5 linked regions of the Homo sapiens genome follow. The protein of the gene in region 2 interacts with the protein of the main gene of each other region in a pairwise test. Each region holds a gene or a part of one and is shown on either strand. Other genes may lie near its edges. The genes, in order: PPP2R5D, SGO2, PPP2R5A, EXOSC8 and CDCA8.

Evidence for each region.
Region 1: the proteins of SGO2 (region 2) and PPP2R5D interact in a two-hybrid assay, tested with the Homo sapiens proteins (one study listed by IntAct).
Region 3: the proteins of SGO2 (region 2) and PPP2R5A interact in binary tests that used the Homo sapiens proteins (3 or more experiments, as listed by UniProt).
Region 4: the proteins of SGO2 (region 2) and EXOSC8 interact in a two-hybrid assay, tested with the Homo sapiens proteins (one large-scale study listed by BioGRID).
Region 5: the proteins of SGO2 (region 2) and CDCA8 interact in binary tests that used the Homo sapiens proteins (3 or more experiments, as listed by UniProt).

Annotation. Positions count from the first base shown.
Region 1 is NC_000006.12:42,990,966-42,994,965, forward strand, and holds part of PPP2R5D (serine/threonine-protein phosphatase 2A 56 kDa regulatory subunit delta isoform), read left to right. Parts: intron 1-4,000. UniProt on the Homo sapiens protein: The B regulatory subunit might modulate substrate selectivity and catalytic activity, and might also direct the localization of the catalytic enzyme to a particular subcellular compartment.
Region 2 is NC_000002.12:200,570,788-200,574,787, forward strand, and holds part of SGO2 (shugoshin 2), read left to right. Parts: intron 1-262; coding exon 263-3,190; intron 3,191-4,000. UniProt on the Homo sapiens protein: Cooperates with PPP2CA to protect centromeric cohesin from separase-mediated cleavage in oocytes specifically during meiosis I. Has a crucial role in protecting REC8 at centromeres from cleavage by separase.
Region 3 is NC_000001.11:212,358,030-212,362,473, reverse strand, and holds the end of PPP2R5A (serine/threonine-protein phosphatase 2A 56 kDa regulatory subunit alpha isoform), read right to left. Parts: intron 3,789-4,444; coding exon 3,687-3,788; intron 1,837-3,686; coding exon 1,704-1,836; 3' UTR 621-1,703; downstream 1-620. UniProt on the Homo sapiens protein: The B regulatory subunit might modulate substrate selectivity and catalytic activity, and might also direct the localization of the catalytic enzyme to a particular subcellular compartment.
Region 4 is NC_000013.11:37,006,950-37,010,614, forward strand, and holds the end of EXOSC8 (exosome complex component RRP43), read left to right. Parts: intron 1-25; coding exon 26-122; intron 123-1,107; coding exon 1,108-1,228; intron 1,229-1,779; coding exon 1,780-1,886; intron 1,887-2,234; coding exon 2,235-2,350; 3' UTR 2,351-2,665; downstream 2,666-3,665. Other genes in the region: SUPT20H (transcription factor SPT20 homolog), read right to left, coding at 2,723-2,860, 3,603-3,665. UniProt on the Homo sapiens protein: Non-catalytic component of the RNA exosome complex which has 3'->5' exoribonuclease activity and participates in a multitude of cellular RNA processing and degradation events.
Region 5 is NC_000001.11:37,698,516-37,702,515, reverse strand, and holds part of CDCA8 (borealin), read right to left. Parts: intron 3,612-4,000; coding exon 3,539-3,611; intron 2,081-3,538; coding exon 1,995-2,080; intron 763-1,994; coding exon 698-762; intron 1-697.

The sequences.
Region 1 (4,000 bases), on a different chromosome or scaffold from region 2:
CCTCCCAAAGTGCTGGGATTACAGGCGTGAGCCACTGCACCCGGCCCTTATGCGGTATTCTAAATATCTCCTTAATAATCCTTATCACTCAGCTCTGTGACGATTTGTCCCCATCTGTGTCTCTCCTCTCAGACTGTGAACTCCAAGGGAAGGAGCTATGTTATTCTGCATTGCTTCTTTCCTACCTCTGTGTACTTGTGCAGTTGGTTCATAGTAAATGCTTCTGGGAAGACACACTATGGGCTCAGTCTCCCTTTCAGGAATGATTATAATTGTGGGACCCACAGGGAAGGTGGTTGGAAGCTGGTAACTTGACATTTAGAGCAGCAAGAAACAGGATTTTCTAAGTCCTGAAAATCCTGGGAGAGGAAGGAAAATTTAATGGGGAGTTCCCACCTTTTGCCTAACTCCTACTTCTTTAGTTCTTAGATGGGATGTCGTTTCCTTAAAGCAGCCTTCTTTGACCACCCACCCCTATCCCCAGGACCTCGCGAGGGCTTCTGTTAGTTGCTGTTTTGGCACTCAGTACCTGGTAGCGCTGGTAGCACCTAACCACAACTGTCATGAAATAATTCCTTGTGAATTCATTGTTTTATCGGCTGTCTCTTGTGTTAGCACGAGAGCTCCATGAGGCTCTCATTCACTCCTGAAGGGCCTGACACAGCAGAAGCACCCAGCATTTGAATGTATTAGTGAGTGAATGAGTGAACGAGTGAATGAACAAATGCACCAATTTCACATTAGAGCTGAAAAGGACCTTAGGGTCTAACGTTATCAGTTCATAGATGGGAAAATGAAGCCTGAACAGGTTAAGGAGTATGCTGAGACCAACTGCTATGATTTATCCACTGCCTTTCAAACAAATATGCCTAAGACAATGGGTCTATTACAAGCAATCTGGGAAAGGAGGGTGTTGAGTTCACCTTGGGCTGTTTGGTGAAACGCTGCTCAGGGTTCACAGGTATGAGATGGCAGCAGGAATTATCCATGATTTTGTAGAAATGTACCCACGTCTGGTATGGCAGGGGTATGGGGAAAAGTTGGAGCTAGGATGTGAGGCTGTGGTCTTCAAAAGCTGTTTGGCACAGTCCTTCCCTTGCCCTTTTTCTTTTGAGATGGAATCTTGCTCTGTCGCCCAGGCTGGAGTGCAGTGGCGCGATCTTGGCTCACTGCAAGTTCCATCTCCTGGATTCACGCCATTCTCCTGCCTCAGCCTCCCGAGTAGCTGGGACTACAGGCTCCCGCCACCACGCCTGGCTAATTTTTTGTATTTTTAGTAGAGATGGGGTTTCACCATGTTAGCCAGGATGGTCTCGATCTCCTGACCTCGTGATCCACCCGCCTCGGCCTCCCAAAGTGCTGGGATTACAGATGTGAGCCACCGCGCCCGGCCCCCTTGCCCTTTTCTTGTCCGGAATTTTGGGCTCTTCTAGCCAGCTTTGCTCTGTCAGGCATTTGCCAGAGCCTTTCTAATTGATCTAATAGTTATAGCAGCTGACATTTATTTTATAGAGCAGTTACTTTGTGTTAGTTTCCTAGGGCAGCCATAATAAACTACTACAAATAAGCCCGGCATGCTGGCTCACACCTGTAATCCTAATGCTTTGGGAAGCTGAGGTGGGAGAATTGCTTGAGGGCAGGAGTTTGACACCAGCCTGGGCAACATACAGAGACCCTGTCTCTACAAAAAAATAAAAAATAAAAAATTAGCTGGATGTGGGGGCATGTGCCCCTGTACTTCCAGCCACACGGGAGGCTGAGGCGGAGGATCGCTTGAGTCCAGGAGTTCAAGGCTGCAGTGGGCCATGATCGTACCACTGCACTCCAGCCTGGGTGACAGAACGAGACCTTGTCTCAAGAAAACAAAACAAAACAAATTATTACAAATTGGGTGGCTTAAAACAATAGAAATAGGCTGGGTGCGGTGGCTCACACCTGTAATCCCAGCACTTTGGGAGGCTGAGGCAGGTGGATCACCTGAGGTCAGGAGTTTGAGAGCAGCGTGGCCAACATGGTAAAACACTGTCTCTACTAAAAATACAAAAATTGGGCTGGGCATGGTGGCTCACACCTGTAATCCCAGCACTTTGGGAGGCCGAGGCGGGTGGATCACCTGAGGTCAGGAGTTCAAGACCAGCCTGACCAACATAGTGAAACCCTGTCTCTACTAAAAATACAAAAATTAGCCAGGCGTGGTGGCACATGCCTGTAATCCCAGCTACTAGGGAGGCTGAGGCAGGAGAATCGCTTGAACCCAAGAGCCGGAGGATGCAGTGAGCCGATATTGCACCATTGCAACCCAGACTAGGCAACAAGAGCGAAACTCCGTCTCAAAAAAAAAAAAAAATACAAAAATTAGCCGGGCGTAGTGGTGGCGCACCTGTAATCCCAGCTACTGGGGAGGCTGAGGCTGGAGAATTGCTTGAACCCAGGAGGCGGAGGTTGCAGTGAGAGGAGATCGTGCCATTGCACTCCAGCCTCGGTGACAAGAGGGAAACTCTGTCTCAAAAAACAAAAAACAAACAAAAAAAGAAATACATTCTCTCTCAGCTCTGGAGGCCAAAAGTTGTAAAATTAGTGTCGGCAGGGCCATGTCCTTCTGAGGTTCTAAGGAAGAATCTGTTCCACATCTCTCTCCTAGATTCTGGTGGCTTTTGACAATCTTTGGCATTCCTTGTAGATGCATCACTTTAATCTCTGCCTCTGTCTTCACACAGCATTCTCCTCCATGTGTCTCTGTCTCTGTCCAAATTTTCCTCTTCTAAGGACACCAGTCATATTGGACTTAGGTTTCACCCCAATCCAGTATGATCTCATTTTAACTTGATTACATCTGCAAAGACCCTGTTTCCAAGTAAGGTCACATTCACAGATTCTAGGTGGACATGAATTTGGTGAGGGGAGGGGGTAGGGGACTGGATACTGTGCAACACTATGTACCAGGCACTGTGCTAAGTACTTTGCATACATTGTCTCATTTAACCTTCACAATACTCCCCTGAGATTCCTTTATTATTATTATTCCCATTTCACAGATGAAACTGAGGCTTAGAAATGTTAACTGGGCACAGTGGCTCACGCCTGTAATCCCAGCACTTTGGGAGGCCGAGGAGGGCAGACCACCTGAGGTCAGGAGTTCGAGACTAGCCTGGCCAACATGGTGAAACGCTGTCTCTACTAAAAATACAAAAATTAGCCTGGCATGGTCCAGCTACTTGGGAGACTGAGGCAGGAGAATTGCTTGAACCTGGGAGGTGGAGGTTGCAGTGAGCTGAGATTGTGCCACTGCACTCCAGCTTGGGGGAGAGAGCAAGACTCTTGTCTCAAAAGGAAATGTTAAGTAGCTTTTATTCAGCCAGTAAGGCAGTAAGGCAGAGCTGGAATTCAACCCAGGTCTGTGTGACTCTGGAGTCTCTTGTGGTCTTGAATGAAGTGATACTGCTGGCTCTAAGATTCTAGAAGTGAATCCTAGAATGGAAAGGAGCCTTGGGAGATCAGGTGAGACCCCACTGACCTGCCTCTGCAGGTAAGGGTCTTTCTTGATCTGTCCTTGGAAAAAAAAATTCAATGTCCTCACGCCTGTAATCCCAGCATTTTGGGAGGCCGAGGCGGGCGGATCACCTGAGATTGGGAGTTAGAGACCAGCCTGGCCGACATGGTGAAACCCCATCTCTACTAATAATACAAAAATTAGCTGGGCATGGTGGGGCATGCCTGTAATCCCAGCCTGTTATCCCAGCTACTCGGGAGGCTGAGGCATGAGAATCGTTTGAACCTGGGAGACAGAGGTTGCAGTGAGCCAAGATCACGCCATTGCACTCCAGCCTGGGCAACAAGAGCAAAACTCCATCTCAAAAAAAAAAAAAAAAATTAATGTCATAGACTCCTCTACGTGCTGAGCCCTGTCCTGAGTCTGGGAGTAGGGACAGAGGGAGGAATAAATTTTCCCACACTTCAGCTTGTCCTCTCTGAGGCCAGAGTTGTTACTCTAAAAACCTTC
Region 2 (4,000 bases):
TACTCCACTCTACTGTTGGGGCTGAGGCAGAATTCTCAGTATATATTTTCTGTAGATACAAATGTAAAATGTGATTTAGGAGTATTCATCATTTCTAACTTATTTTCTTATAAGCATAGATTCTTAGTAATATTAGGATCTGATCAGAACACATTGTCAGAAATTATATCTGTGAAACAGCTTGATTTCGAATCTAATTTGTTTAAGGTAACTTATTTATTTCATTACTTGTTTCTGAGTTTTGTTTTCCTTTTCTTAATAGAAAGCCATTCCCACTCAGACCAAAGTTCTAAGACTTCTCTAATGAGTGAGATGAGAAACGCCCAGTCTATTGGCCGCAGATGGGAGAAACCATCTCCTAGTAATGTGACTGAAAGGAAGAAGCGTGGGTCATCTTGGGAATCAAATAATCTTTCTGCAGACACTCCCTGTGCAACAGTTTTAGATAAACAACACATTTCAAGTCCAGAATTAAATTGCAATAATGAGATAAATGGTCATACTAATGAAACAAATACTGAAATGCAAAGAAATAAACAGGATCTTCCTGGCTTATCTTCTGAGTCTGCCAGAGAACCTAATGCAGAGTGCATGAATCAAATTGAGGATAATGATGACTTTCAATTGCAGAAAACTGTGTATGATGCTGACATGGATTTAACTGCTAGTGAAGTCAGCAAAATTGTCACAGTCTCAACAGGCATTAAAAAGAAAAGTAATAAAAAAACAAATGAACATGGAATGAAAACTTTCAGAAAAGTGAAAGATTCCAGCTCTGAAAAAAAGAGAGAAAGATCAAAGAGACAGTTTAAAAATAGTTCAGATGTCGATATTGGGGAAAAGATTGAAAACAGGACAGAAAGATCTGATGTCCTGGATGGCAAAAGGGGTGCAGAAGATCCCGGTTTTATTTTCAATAATGAACAGCTGGCTCAGATGAATGAACAGCTGGCTCAGGTGAATGAACTAAAGAAAATGACCCTTCAAACTGGCTTTGAACAAGGTGACAGAGAAAATGTACTGTGTAATAAAAAGGAGAAAAGAATAACAAATGAGCAAGAGGAAACATACTCTTTATCCCAAAGTTCAGGTAAATTTCACCAGGAGAGTAAATTTGATAAGGGTCAGAATTCCCTAACTTGTAATAAAAGTAAAGCTTCTAGACAGACATTTGTGATTCACAAATTAGAAAAAGATAACTTACTCCCAAACCAAAAGGATAAAGTAACCATTTATGAAAACCTAGACGTCACAAATGAATTTCACACAGCCAATCTTTCCACCAAAGATAATGGAAATTTATGTGATTATGGGACCCACAATATATTGGATTTGAAAAAGTATGTCACTGATATTCAACCCTCAGAGCAAAATGAATCAAACATTAATAAGCTTAGAAAGAAAGTAAACCGGAAGACAGAAATAATTTCTGGAATGAACCACATGTATGAGGATAATGATAAAGATGTGGTGCATGGCCTAAAAAAAGGTAATTTTTTTTTCAAAACCCAAGAGGATAAAGAACCTATCTCTGAAAACATAGAAGTTTCCAAAGAGCTTCAAATCCCAGCTCTTTCTACTAGAGATAATGAAAATCAATGTGACTATAGGACCCAGAATGTGTTGGGTTTGCAAAAGCAGATCACCAATATGTACCCCGTTCAGCAAAATGAATCAAAAGTTAATAAGAAGCTTAGGCAGAAAGTAAATCGGAAGACAGAAATAATTTCTGAAGTGAATCATTTAGATAATGACAAAAGTATAGAATACACAGTTAAAAGTCACTCACTCTTTTTAACGCAAAAAGATAAGGAAATCATCCCTGGAAACCTAGAAGACCCAAGTGAGTTTGAAACACCTGCTCTTTCTACCAAAGATAGTGGAAACCTGTATGATTCTGAGATTCAAAATGTTTTGGGGGTGAAACATGGCCATGATATGCAACCTGCTTGTCAAAATGATTCAAAAATAGGTAAGAAGCCTAGACTAAATGTATGTCAAAAGTCAGAAATAATTCCTGAAACCAACCAAATATATGAGAATGATAACAAAGGTGTACATGACCTAGAAAAAGATAACTTCTTCTCTCTAACCCCAAAGGATAAAGAAACAATTTCTGAAAATCTACAAGTCACAAATGAATTTCAAACAGTTGATCTTCTCATCAAAGATAATGGAAATTTATGTGATTATGACACCCAGAATATATTGGAGTTGAAAAAGTATGTTACTGATAGGAAATCTGCTGAGCAAAATGAATCAAAAATAAATAAGCTCAGGAATAAAGTGAATTGGAAGACAGAAATAATTTCTGAAATGAACCAGATATATGAGGATAATGATAAAGATGCACATGTCCAAGAAAGCTATACAAAAGATCTTGATTTTAAAGTAAATAAATCTAAACAAAAACTTGAATGCCAAGACATTATCAATAAACACTATATGGAAGTCAACAGTAATGAAAAGGAAAGTTGTGATCAAATTTTAGATTCCTACAAAGTAGTTAAAAAACGTAAGAAAGAATCATCATGCAAGGCAAAGAACATTTTGACAAAAGCTAAGAACAAACTTGCTTCACAGTTAACAGAATCTTCACAGACATCTATCTCCTTAGAATCTGATTTAAAACATATTACTAGTGAAGCAGATTCTGATCCAGGAAACCCAGTTGAACTATGTAAGACTCAGAAGCAAAGCACTACCACTTTGAATAAAAAAGATCTCCCTTTTGTGGAAGAAATAAAAGAAGGAGAGTGTCAGGTTAAAAAGGTAAATAAAATGACATCTAAGTCAAAGAAAAGGAAGACCTCCATAGATCCTTCTCCAGAGAGCCATGAAGTAATGGAAAGAATACTTGACAGCGTTCAGGGAAAGTCTACTGTATCTGAACAAGCTGATAAGGAAAACAATTTGGAGAATGAGAAAATGGTCAAAAATAAGCCAGACTTTTACACAAAGGCATTTAGATCTTTGTCTGAGATACATTCACCTAACATACAAGATTCTTCCTTTGACAGTGTTCGTGAAGGTTTAGTACCTTTGAGCGTTTCTTCTGGTAAAAATGTGATAATAAAAGAAAATTTTGCCTTGGAGTGCTCCCCAGCCTTTCAAGTAAGTGATGATGAGCATGAGAAGATGAACAAGATGAAATTTAAAGTCAACCGGAGAACCCAAAAATCAGGAATAGGTAGGTTAATAACCATTATGAAATGATAAAGTTTTAGAAGTGTTTTGTTTTTTGTTTTCGTTTTTTACTTAGCCAGTGAAGTATTTTCTAACTGGTATTTTTATGGAATTTAAAAACAATATATAACTGAGTACATGATCCATAGAAATAGCATGAAGGAATAAAGAAAGTTTCATACTTTGGGAAATAACAGTGAGAGTATCTTGGACATTTACAACTATAAATGGATTTGGCCTTTACCACAAACTTGTCTAATAAAGACCATAGGCAAATAATTTGCTTTTTCATACATCTGAAGGAAATTGAATGTTTTAAATGTATATAATAATGAATTGTACTGGTTTTTATTTTACTGAAGACAGTTGCATGTTTCTTGAGAGTGAGACTCTTTCCCCATTCAACAACGTATATTTAATGTGATCAAACCCTTCTAGATATTATAGAGGACTGAAAAATAAACAATACCAACCCCCTTTCCTCAGATTCCATGTATGTAACAAACATCATGGTGAAATGGAATAAACGATTCTTTAAGCACATGTATTATGCTAAGGGATATAATGGGGAGTAATTTTGACTAGAGGAATCTTCAAACGCATCCTTAAATAGGTAGCATTTTAGGCCCTAAAGGATAAGTAAGATTTTTACCTGTAGTATTTACTTTTTATTTTTTTCCCAGTTATTAAAATAGTACTCATTGCAAAAAAATCAAAAGTAGAGAGTCAGAAAAAGGGAGGGGGAAAAAATCACCTGGGAGAACTTTAGTCCATTTACCATGTGCATGCAGACCCAAATCTATGGAATTTTAAA
Region 3 (4,444 bases), on a different chromosome or scaffold from region 2:
ATCTTGTTCTGTCGCCCAGGCTGGAGTGCATCTTGGGTCATTGTGGGCTCAAGCGATTCTCTTGCCTCAGCCTCCCGAGTAGCTGGGATTGTAGACGCCCACCAGCACGCATGGCTAGTTTTTATATTTTTAGTAGAGACAGAGTTTCACCATGTTGGCCAGGCTGGTCTTGAACTCCTGACCTCAGGTGATCGGCCCGCCTCGGCCTCCCAAAATGCTGGGATTACAGGCGCGAGCCACCGCACCCAGCCAATAATACCTGATTTCTAACTGTGCCACAGGCTCCCTGCTCTTCACTAGAAGTGCTATTTATTATGGATTATGAAAAATTAGCTTCAAAGTAAATTAAACCCATCCTCTTAACATACAAGGATATGAAAGATGATGGAAAGATATCCTAGAACTTAGAATTTTATGCAAATATTCTGTAAAACATATTTTGGTAAAGGGCTAGAACACTCAACCTTGGCACACAATCTTCCTATTTTTAAATTAGACTTCGTCCCACAATTTGTCTTAAAAGTTTCTATAAATACACATATGTATGTAAAAAGGGGGGCAGACTTCTCCTGTATGCCTAAGCTTAGAGCTAAAAGAAGCAAAGATGACATAAGGCAAAATACAAACATAGACTTTATTAAATGCTGCTCAATCCCCCAATGAAGATCTTTCATTACAAAACAGTTTTCCACACAACTGCAAGTTAAGAGATTGGAATGGTACTCTGATAACAAAAGATGTGAGAAATACTTGACCAAGTAAAAACATACAAGACCTCTATATAGTCAACCTTTTCAGAGCTCTACAGAGGAAGCCTACTGCAGTTCCTTTAAATAAAGCCAGGCAGTGACAACTAGTGCTCTGTATCACCACACTGTGGGACTCAAAGCCTCCATCCCTGGGTCAGGAGGGACTAGGTGAAGGACAGGTTGTGAGGACTGGAAAGGCCCTGCCTTCAGCCTTTGAGAGGAAGAGGAGGAATGAATTGAGAGGCAAGCTGGGTAATTCACCTGAGCTGCCTCTACCCATCTGTTACCACTCTGGAGAATTGCAGAGGAAGGGGGATATTCATGAGGAACAATCTGAAGAATTTTGGTTTACTTTCCCAGCTTTTATTTATATTTTGTGCTTTAAAAAGCCTGGAGATTTAAGGTTTTGCCTAAATTCCAGAGTACAGTAATGTATTTATTGAGGGAGGGGTTAGGGCAGGTAATTCCCCCCATCATATTTCTGGGTGAGACAAAGAGAAGGGTAAGGATGATACCTTAGTTTTATTTTAGGAAGTATTTTTTCCTAGGATGTAACTAAGGTTTGCAGCAGTGTGAAAAGCACATTATAAAAGGGAAAAATATACAGAGCAGACTACCATATCTATGTGCAACACAATCAAAGAAGAATTCAAGTCATAATTCTTACCACTCCCATAATTATCTCACTCATATCATAGATGATAAAATTCATTCATTTCTGTGAAACTTCAGAAGTGACACAATAAATCCAATGATTAGACAAAGGTTACAATATACTATGGCCATGATACAGCACAGGGCTACGTTTAGTCCATATATTTTTCCATTTACAGTTGCCAGAAAAAATTGGCCTTTTAATTATATTATACTGATGAGGTTTGTTTTGTAATTTTTACATATTTCAAAAAAGCATACAAAACTCTGCCTATCCGGCAGAGGTGGGAGGCTTTTTTTTTATTCGGCACTTGTATTGCTGAGAATACTGTGCATGTTGTAAGCACTATTCTGTTTTTCTAGAGCTTTCTTTAGCTTTAGCTCCTCTAATTTTTTCCATAATTCTTCACGTTCCAATTCCTTCTTTTTCTCTCTGTAGATAAACCAAAATTTTTGTAATCAGAAATTATTTCAGAACCCAAAGAGAGGTGCTGTTTGACAGCTTACTGGAGAACACATTACTTACCCACATTTCACTTAAATCCCTCTGCTAAAGCTTTGGAGTCCACTTACCTGGAGCACCTAATTTCTTCTTGTCACTCTCCTAAATGTACTGAGTCTGTGCATCTCCTGTACCAGCTAGACGTTACTACTTGCTTTCTGTCCCCTACACATTATCACTACCATGACACTGTACTTTATAGTCAACAAAGTACTTACACGTCAATTTTCTCACGTAAACATCTTGCAGTTGTAGTAGTCTAATCAGTATTACAAAGGCTGAAGGGGCTGGCCACTAGGTCAGTAGGAAGCACTTCCTTCACCACACCAGACAGAAGCCACATCATTTTTGCCACTAACAGCCACATCTCTAGCCACTAACCAGTTTGTATCTTACTAGCTCCTCTTTTACATGTCAAATGAAAACTTTAGTTTCAGTAATCTTTCTCTAGAACAAAATGAAGGTCAAAATATTTCATATGTCGTTTCAACTAATTAATTTCAGTTCTAAGGAAAACATTTCTGAGTAACTTGAACCTGTCTATTCTGAAAGGCTCCATGAACATGTAAAACATAGGCTTATAATTCTGCAGTTATGAGTTAAAAGGACAAATCCTTTTAAAGGATTTGCTGATTTATGCAGGTAAGAAATGATGAGTATATTCTTAGTCATGTGAAATACATATTTTTCAAATACAAGTTTCCTATGATCCTAGTCATCTTATTTTCTTCCCATTGCTTCCTGAGGCTCAAAACATGTACTTAATTTCTATTCCTGCCTGAATGCTGCTATTTAAAGGAAATAATGCATTGAGTTAGTTATTAATGGGCTGGATGGCTTTGAAGAAAGGCTATCCATTTTCTACTTTAAGATAACCATAACTAGGAACTTGTCAAAATAGATAGCTTTTCTAAACAGAACAGGTAATATGCTTATTAGAAGTAAATGGTAACTGTTATCCTCAAATAATGGGTGGGCTCAGGTACACTGGTTACTAACCACTTAAGTTTAAGAAAGTGCTTCTTGAGTTTGAAATAAACATATGAGAAGAAAGTAACTCTTGAAAGATTATTTTATAGTAATTTATGAAATTCTCAAAAAGAGGTAATCACTAGGCCATGTTCCTAAAGGCTGATACGTGCTAACATTTATACTCTAAAATACATATTATTGCAAGGACAACATATTAATAGTACCCTAAGCCATATCATTATGTGACTTCCCTCTTCCCAAAGGAGAACTATGCTGACTTTAAAATACCACCTTCTGATAATCCACAGCGTAAGAATTACCTACTGCTAACAAAGAACACTTGAAAAGTAAAGCTCACTCTGGAAGCCCACGTGGACAAAAAGGATTTTCGTAAATGCATGGATAAAAAATCAAATTGTACAAATTGATATTTAAAATTCAGCATAAATTATATTTCATATGCAGATGCTAACAGACTGAGGAAATCTAAGGCTCAGAATGAGATAAACAGGATTTATGATCCACATTAAAATCATAATCTAACCATTTAGAGGAAGTAAATTATGTAACTACCCTCAAAAATAAATGCTACTGCTTTTTCTGCTTTAACAAATTTATAAAAATACTGGGGCTAGTTTATCTGGAAATGACTTATATGTTAAGAGACTTTCACATTGTAATGTTTACTATAAGGTAATTAACTTCTTAAATATGAAAATCTGAACTGAGAGAAGATACCTTCCTGAACTGAATCACATTCAACTAACATAAAATGTATAGATAATTTTGTAATTCAAAATATCAAATACCTCTGTCTTTCAGCTTTGTATGAGCTAGTAAGGTCATCGAAAAGCTTGCCATTCATTTCCATTAGGGTTTTCAGCACATTGTATACCAGTGCTACAATGGTCCTGAAATGAAAATGAGCCAGTCCTGAGTTATGATACTGCTAACAGAGAGGAAATGTAACACTATGGTCTCTAAAATGGGTTAAAGCTTGGCTGATTTCATTTAATCCATTTTAGAGATGATAAAACTGAGGCTCAAGAGGTTTGTAATATGCTCAAGGTCATACAGCAAGTGGTGGTAGAGACAGTCTAAGAAAACTTAAATCTTTTCCATTTTATCATGCTTACATTAAACTCTAGTTAAAAATGTTCACTATAGTTATCTTCATTTCTGCTTTACAGTCTCATGTCTGAAATCCTGAGTAACAACATTAAAAGAAGATGAAAAAGATCCAATTACCAAAACTTATGAAAAGTAGAAAGCCGGATAAGGATGTTAAAGAAGTTAGAATATATTACCCTTAGCACTTCGGCTTTCCCCTGGGACAGTGCCATTTATAGAGGGGAGACTATACACTGAGAGTAGACCAACACAACTCTGCATTAACGGAGTAGTTTGTGTATCCTCTGCAAATGTTCAGTTGGTCTCCCCAAGAGGGTTTGACCACAACCTCCAGGGAGATTTGCAATTTTAAATTGACATGAAGGCTGGGCACAGTGGTACATGCCTATAATCTCAGCACTTTGGGAGGCCAAGGTGAGATGATCACTTGAGCCCA
Region 4 (3,665 bases), on a different chromosome or scaffold from region 2:
CCTTTTGTGTTTAATTCTATTTTAGCTTGTCTGGGTTCTATACTGTGATCTCATTTGCCTCGACTACGATGGAAACATTTTGGATGCCTGCACATTTGCTTTGCTAGCGGCTTTAAAAAATGGTAAGCAGCCTTACAAAAAAGGCAATATTCCCACTCATGGGTTAGAATGTTGTTTTGTGAAACTTTTAATGTACATTTGCTTTCGTATGCTTCCAAATTAATGAATGTAATGCTGACATGACTTTCCAAATATAGTTGATAGTTGTATATTCTCTAACTGAATGCTCTTTAGAGTGCTGCTTTGACTGTACCCATCTACTTAAGTTAGGACTTCAGTCCTTTCCAAAATAGTGTTAATATTGGTGGGAGAAGGAGACAAGAGTTGTAACTTCTGGCTAGGTGATTGGTGAAGATCTGCCAGTATCCTCATAGTTCTTTATGTGATATTGCCAAAAGAAGTAGAATGGATTCTGTTGTTTTTACTGTGAGGCCATAGTAATAGGGAAGTTTCTTAGCAAGGAGTCTAGGTTGACTGATTAGTTACAGATTTCAATAACTTGTGCATATTCCCTATCATTGATGAATGATGAATTGGTAGGAACAAATAATTGGAGGTGGAATATAAAGTTAGCACAGCAATATTATAGTAGAGTGGTTAAGTGAATTGGAGGTAGAAAATGAAGTCAGCAAAATATTATAATAGACTGGTTAAAGTAGATTCCTGGCTCTCTCACTCTGTGCTGAAGTTTCCTTATCTATAATAAAATAGGGATAATAGTACTTACTTTGTAAGAGTATTGATTAGGTGAATACAATGAAAATATGAAAATGCTTAAAACAGTACCTGGCAGATATAAATTTAAAAAAAAATCATTGACTTCTTAAACTTAAAAAAAAATTATGCAATAAGCACTAGGTAGGAATGTCAGATGTTGTGAAAAGCAATGTATATCCTCTATATTTACCTTAGTGGCTGTAAGGTGCTTTTTAAAAAGAAATGTTCTGGGCAAGTTAAATAGAGGGAAAGGTGAATTAAAAAAAAAAAAGCTTAGAAATCATTTGTTTCTTAGAGACTTACTTACTTTACAAATTTGCCTTTTCTTAGTACAGTTGCCTGAAGTTACTATAAATGAAGAAACTGCTTTAGCAGAAGTTAATTTAAAGAAGAAAAGTTATTTGAATATTAGAACTCATCCAGTTGCAACTTCCTTTGCTGTGTTTGATGAGTAAGTTAATCAAACTTACTTTAAAATTTTCTATATTTAAGATTAGGGTAATTGATGTTCAGCATTCTAACTCTTTAGGAAGTGCTATGGTGACCCTACATCCTAGTTTTCCCTGGACACTTGAGTTTCTACTTGTCCCTGCACAATTATTTCTAGTCACTGCACAATTATTACCTGTTCCTTGGTTTACTTATACCTGTGTAATGTTAATTTCCAATTCTTTCACTATAAGATTTATCTGAAGCTATCTTCAATATTTTCCAAGGATTTTAGCACGTTCAGAAATAGAAGAGCAGGGCCGGGCATGGTGGCTCATGCCTGTAATCCCAGCACTTTGGGAGGCTGAGGCAGGGGATCACCTGAGGTCAAGAATTCAAGACCAGCCTGGCCAACATGTTGAAACCCTGTCTCTACTAAAAACACAAAAATTAGCTGGGTGTGATGGCGTGTGCCTGTTAATTCCAGCTACTTGGGAGGCTGATAGTATGTTTAGTATTTTAAAGTAAAATTTGTTCCATGGATTGATAACTTATATTTTTTTCTTTTTATAGCACTTTGCTTATAGTTGACCCTACTGGAGAGGAGGAACATCTGGCAACAGGAACCTTAACAATAGTAATGGATGAGGAAGGCAAACTCTGTTGTCTTCACAAACCAGGCATGTTCCCGCCACTTCAGTCCTAAACATATGTAGATGAAAACTCAGTGTGAGCCTTAAATTAGGGAGGGCCAAATAGAATATGGGATATTTTATTTACCTAATTTTAGTATAGTTTCTTAGCTACCTAAAATGTTCTTCCATCTTAATGGTATATGTCAGTGGTTCTTAAACTTAAGACATACATTAGAATCACTTGGAGGTCTTGTGAAACTAACTTGTAGATCTTGAGACTGTACCCTGATTTACATTATCCAATTTTTTTGTTTTATAATTTGACATGACATTAATGTTTTTTGAAAAGGAATGATAACTGAGATTAAAAGTATTGGCAAAATAATTTTTCAGGTGGAAGTGGGCTAACTGGAGCTAAACTTCAGGACTGTATGAGCCGAGCAGTTACAAGACACAAAGAAGTTAAAAAACTGATGGATGAAGTAATTAAGAGTATGAAACCCAAATAAACAGCCACCACATTTTCAAAACAGATTTGTAAAAATTGTATTTGTTAACACTGTGCACAAACGTTTTATACTAAATAAATATCAAACTACATTCTTCTGAAAGATGTTTCTATTATTTCTTAGGTCACTTCCATATATATTATGTATAGTGAAACCATTTTTAAAAAGCAATGACTTAGGCAAACCAACCCTAGTTTGTTAAACCATTTCCCTGTTTTTATTTAAAAATGATAAGGTTGTGCTTCTGTATAAAGTTTGTACATCTAGCAATGTAAAATACTGACACATTAAAAAAAACAAAAAGTAGAAACTCAATTCTTTTGATTCAGTGCTCTTGTGTTTTTAAAAAAGGAACAAAAAGTAATGCAAGACTCAAAATTTTGGAGTGGTTGGCGTGCCTCTCTTCATTTTACTTTTTGACTGGCTGCCTGTATGCCGATGATGATGTAGCTGAGCTGTTTGTGCTGCTGCTGCTGCCATAGCCATTTGATGCTGCAAGAATCGCAACTGCTGCAAAAGGGAGGGAAAAAAATCGAGTTATGTTAAATGCAGGCAGGTGTAGAAAGGTGCTTTTCCTGAGTGACGAAACAACACAACTGAAAAAGGGAGAAAGCACCAAGATAACAAAAAGGGACTATACCACATTGAGACAATGCACAGTCAAACAGCACCAGTGGCACAGAAGCCTGCTAAGGGCTTTAAAAATGATTCTTGGCAAACTTCAAAATTATTTGTTACTTTGCCCTGCCAGTCTATATTGTAGTAACTCAGCAACTTCAGTTACCATTTTGTTGTATAATGATGGTTTATAGCAATATAAAACAACCCTGAATATCAAGATAGTCAACTATAATATGCTGACTTTCCTTCCTAAAATTATGGTATAACATTTTTCTAAATAAACAGGTATGACATTTACTAATAGGAACACTTTTCTGCAGTAAAATATTAGAAAGTTAACAATTGGCACTTACAACTGTCTTTCAAAATATACTGCATACTAGAAAAATGTATGTTAATGTGCCACCAGCACTTCATGAAAAATTTTATAGAGTATGGCTTAAATATACAAAATATATTCAGTGCTCCAAGTTGACTGGCTAAAATGTCAGACTTTAAAATTTGCTAAATTATTTACCAATTACTGTACAGTCTTAAAAGACAGTAAAATAAAACTAAAGCAAGTTATTTTGAGGTACTTTTGGAGCTGAGTATCTTTAAAAATGTAATCAGAGTGAAGTTGCTGGATTACTTGTATCTGTTGCTGCTGCTGTTGAAAGGCAGAGGAGAGCTGGAATCTCTGCTGAGGAAGGCT
Region 5 (4,000 bases), on a different chromosome or scaffold from region 2:
TGCTGTACCTTCCCCCACATGGCTTATGGTAGAGTCCAGTATAATCAACTCAAGCCCATAGAGGTTCTTCACTTTGCAGGACTGGACAAAACATTTCAAGAAACCAATTATAGGTAAGTGACAGCCACTCTATGACGAGCTATGGGGTAGCTCTACATATGGACTATCAGGAACTGAAACATAACAGGCAGTTCTTGCTATACTTAAAAAAAAAAAGTGGGGGCTGAGGTGGGTGGATCACCTGAGGTCGGGGGTTCAAGACCAGCCTGACCAACATGGAGAAACCCCGCATCTACTAAAAATACAAAATTAGCCGGCATGGTGGCACATGCCTATAATCCCAGCTACTCGGGAGGCTGAGGCAGGAGAATCATTTGAACCCGCGAGGCAGAAGTTGCAGTGAGCCAAGATTGCACCATTGCACTCCAGCCTGGCCAACGAGATTGAAACTCCGTCTCAAAAAAAAAAAAAAAAAAAAGTGGGGAAGGATAGAGAATGTACATTAAAGTACTGGAGATGGTTTTGGTTTAGGTCATTTCTAGAGACCCCTCCAGCTTGGATACTCAAGGATTCAGTGATTTTAAGCTGCTTTCAAACACTAGCCACCAGAGCCTTTTCACTGCCCCTCACTTTCTGCCATGATATATATGGCTCTCCAATAAAACCCAAAACACCACAACTTTAGAAAATCCACTACCTTTTCCCTTTTCCTTTTCCTTGTATGGACTGAGTTCTCTTCTTGGATGGAGGACACCTTTTGACCTGCAGTCACAATCAAATGAGACTAAGGTTACAAAAAACCCAGCAAAGAGGAAGGTAAGGAGGGTTTTTTTTTTTTTTTTAAAGCATTAAGAACAAGCTTTGGATAGTTAATACTAAATATAATAAGGTGTATCTCAGAATTCAATGACTTAAAAAGTTCAGAACATAACTAATTGAATAAGGACTTCCACTGGCTGGGTTTTCAAAATAGAGGATTTTGACCAAGATTAAAGGTAAATCTCTTTTGAACTGATTGCAGCCTGGCTTGTACCCCACTACTTTACATAAAGGGCTGCTGTGAAGGTCACTCAGGGCGTCCCAGGTGCCCAATCAAAGGCAAACCCTGCAGTGCTCCCTTCCTGGGGCCTGGGAGGTCCCTGGCAAGAATCACTCCTTATCTTCCATATATTCTCTCCTCCCTTGTCCTCCGTGATGGATCTGTCTTTCCTGCTTCTCTAACTTCCTTGGCAGTCTGCCTTAGGAGCTCCTCTCTCTACCCTCCCTCTAGTGTCCACCCTGACTCCCTCCCTTCCTGCTCTCCCTGCACAACCATCTCCACTCCCACACTGGGACAAACACCTAAAGATCTGGGAGGCAGTGTATCTCTCAAATCTCCCTCTTCTCCCTGAGCTCCAGGCTGAAATTTCTGTCTAGCCTAGATGTCCTGGAAAAGTAATGAATGGTCAACATGTCATGCAATTGGCATGTGCTCCACCACCCCCAGTCCAGCACCCTCTGCCACCTGGGTCCCACACCTCACTGGATAGCATTTGCCTTAGCTAGAAACCATGCAGTTGTCTCTGATTCCTCCTTTTCTCCACCAACCATGCCACTTCTTTCTAAAACCTATCTAAAAACCATCCCTTCATTCTATAGTGTCAGCATGTCAGTTCAAGAATTCATAGGCTTCTAACTGGTTTCCTCATCTTCAGTTTTCCGCCTCCCCCATCTATCCTGAATACTGTTCCTCTTCCCTTTCTTCTCTAGCTAGTAGACTCTCACTCACCTTGAAAGGCCTGTCTATGTCCTAGTGGGGTAGGGGAGGCTTGCTAGCTTCCTCTTCTGTGTTCTACACACTTTGCACACCAGTCAATTATCTCTTTTGTCATTGCCATGTAAAGTAGGATCATCTCTACTAAACTGTGAGCTCTGGTGTACAACAGTGTATTTTATGCATTTGTATTTGCTTGTCTTGTGATAACCCCCAGCCTCCAACCTCAGTGTCCACTTACTCTTGCAGTTTGAAGATTCTTACGTTCATTTTCTTCTTCTTCTTCCTCTTCCACTATCATTTCATCTACCTGTATTACCTTTCGTGCTGTAAGAAACAGTTTCAACAGGGTGGTATTTCTGATGAAAATAAAGTTTTGTGCATTCACATTTCTTATAGGAATAAAATGTACACAATCTTAAGCTGCAAGGAAGAAATGGACTAAAAATAAAGAAGACTTTTTAAGAAAGAGGGTTTAGACAAAGGAAACTAACCAGAGTGTTAAGAGACCCCATATGATGCTTTGTAGGGACAGCCCAGCATTCTGAATAATTGAGCTTGCCCTGCCTACTGTAGAGCGTGCCCTGGTGTGTAGCCCCGAAATCCTGGCCATGGGTCAGGATGTTCTTATAAGAATTGGATGCATCAAACTATCATAGCTTAATGACAGTGACATTAAGTCCATGTCACAATTCATCCTGATCCGATTCCTTGCTCACTAGTCAAAACCTGGTTTCCCATACAACTTTTCCTATAAGACAGTGTTTCTCAGAGTGCGGGACATGTATGTAAGATGATTTTATGTGGATAGATCATGGAATTGAGTAACTTTTTTTTTTTTTTGAGACAGAGTCTCGCTCTATCGCCCAGGCTAGAGTGCAGTGGCATGATCTCAGCTCACTGCCAGCTCCACCTCCCGGGTTCACGCCATTCTCCTGTCTCAGCCTCCCAAGTAGCTGGGACTACAGGCGCCCGCCACCACGCCCGGCTAATTTTTTGTATTTTTTAGTAGAGACGGGGGTTCACCGTATTAGCCAGGATGGTCTCGAACTCCTGACCTCGTGATCCACCCACCTCGGCCTCCCAAAGTGCTTGGATTACAGGCGTGAGCCACCACGCCTAGCTGAGTAACTTTTTTTTTCCTTTCCTTTCCTTTCCTTTCCTTTCCTTTCCTTTCTTTCTTTCTTTTTTTTTTCAGAGACAAGGTCTCACTACATTGCCCAGGCTGGTCTTGAACTCCTGGGCTCAAGTAATCCTCACAGCTTGGCCTCCCAAAGTGCTGGGATTACAGGCGTGAGCTACCGCACCTGGCCTGAATTGAGTAATTTTGAATTATATGCAGAGAAAGTCATTCCTTTTTCAATTCGCTTTCAACTTTGTTGATTACATCAGGGAGCGTCTCAGTTGGTGTTACCAGTCTTTTAACACCTCTCTAAATCTTGTCATCTATTTAACCCAGGAGAAAGTAAGCAGGCAACAATGTTTGGTTTCTAGCACAGCTTTTTTCCCCCCTTTTTTCACTTTCATTTTAGCTCGCACACGGGTCTTGAGTTTGGTTTTTAGCAGTCCTGCCTAAAATTAACTAAATTTCTGGTTTGAATTGCTGTTCGGGGGAAAAAAAATTAACTAAATGCACCATCCAAAAGCAAGTTTTTGGATTTACAAGATTAAGAACCAGACATTAAAGGGAAGAGGCTCTACCAACAAGGCGCTGCCTGAGCAGCCAACCAAGCAACCTGAGCCTCAGTTCTTTCTGTACAACAAGGAGTTTTGAAAGGTACTCACTTTTGGCAGATTTCAGGGGTGTCTGAATAGCTTCTGCTGTTAGTTTGTTTATTTCGGTGATATCCAGGTCAGCCTATGACAAACATAGCCAGAAAGCACCAGGCTTATTCCACCAAAATATGAGGAACAATATTTCAAGATAAAAACTTTTTTAAAACTATTATTTAATACATAAGACTGTTAAATGTTAGTGATACAATATACAATATAGCAAACTCCCATAAACCCACCACACAGCCCAAGACCTAAAACATTGCCAATAACTTGCTTCTGGCTCTGTATTCATTCCTTGTTCCATTTTCTTATCTCTTCTTCCAAAGGTGATGAGTCTCCTAATCCTTCATTCCCCAGGGGTAACCATATCATTGCACTTGCTTTATCGAAAGGTACATGTGTATGTGCTCACAGATACATGCATATGTGTGTATACATGTGTGCACACACAGATGTGCTTTTTCACAA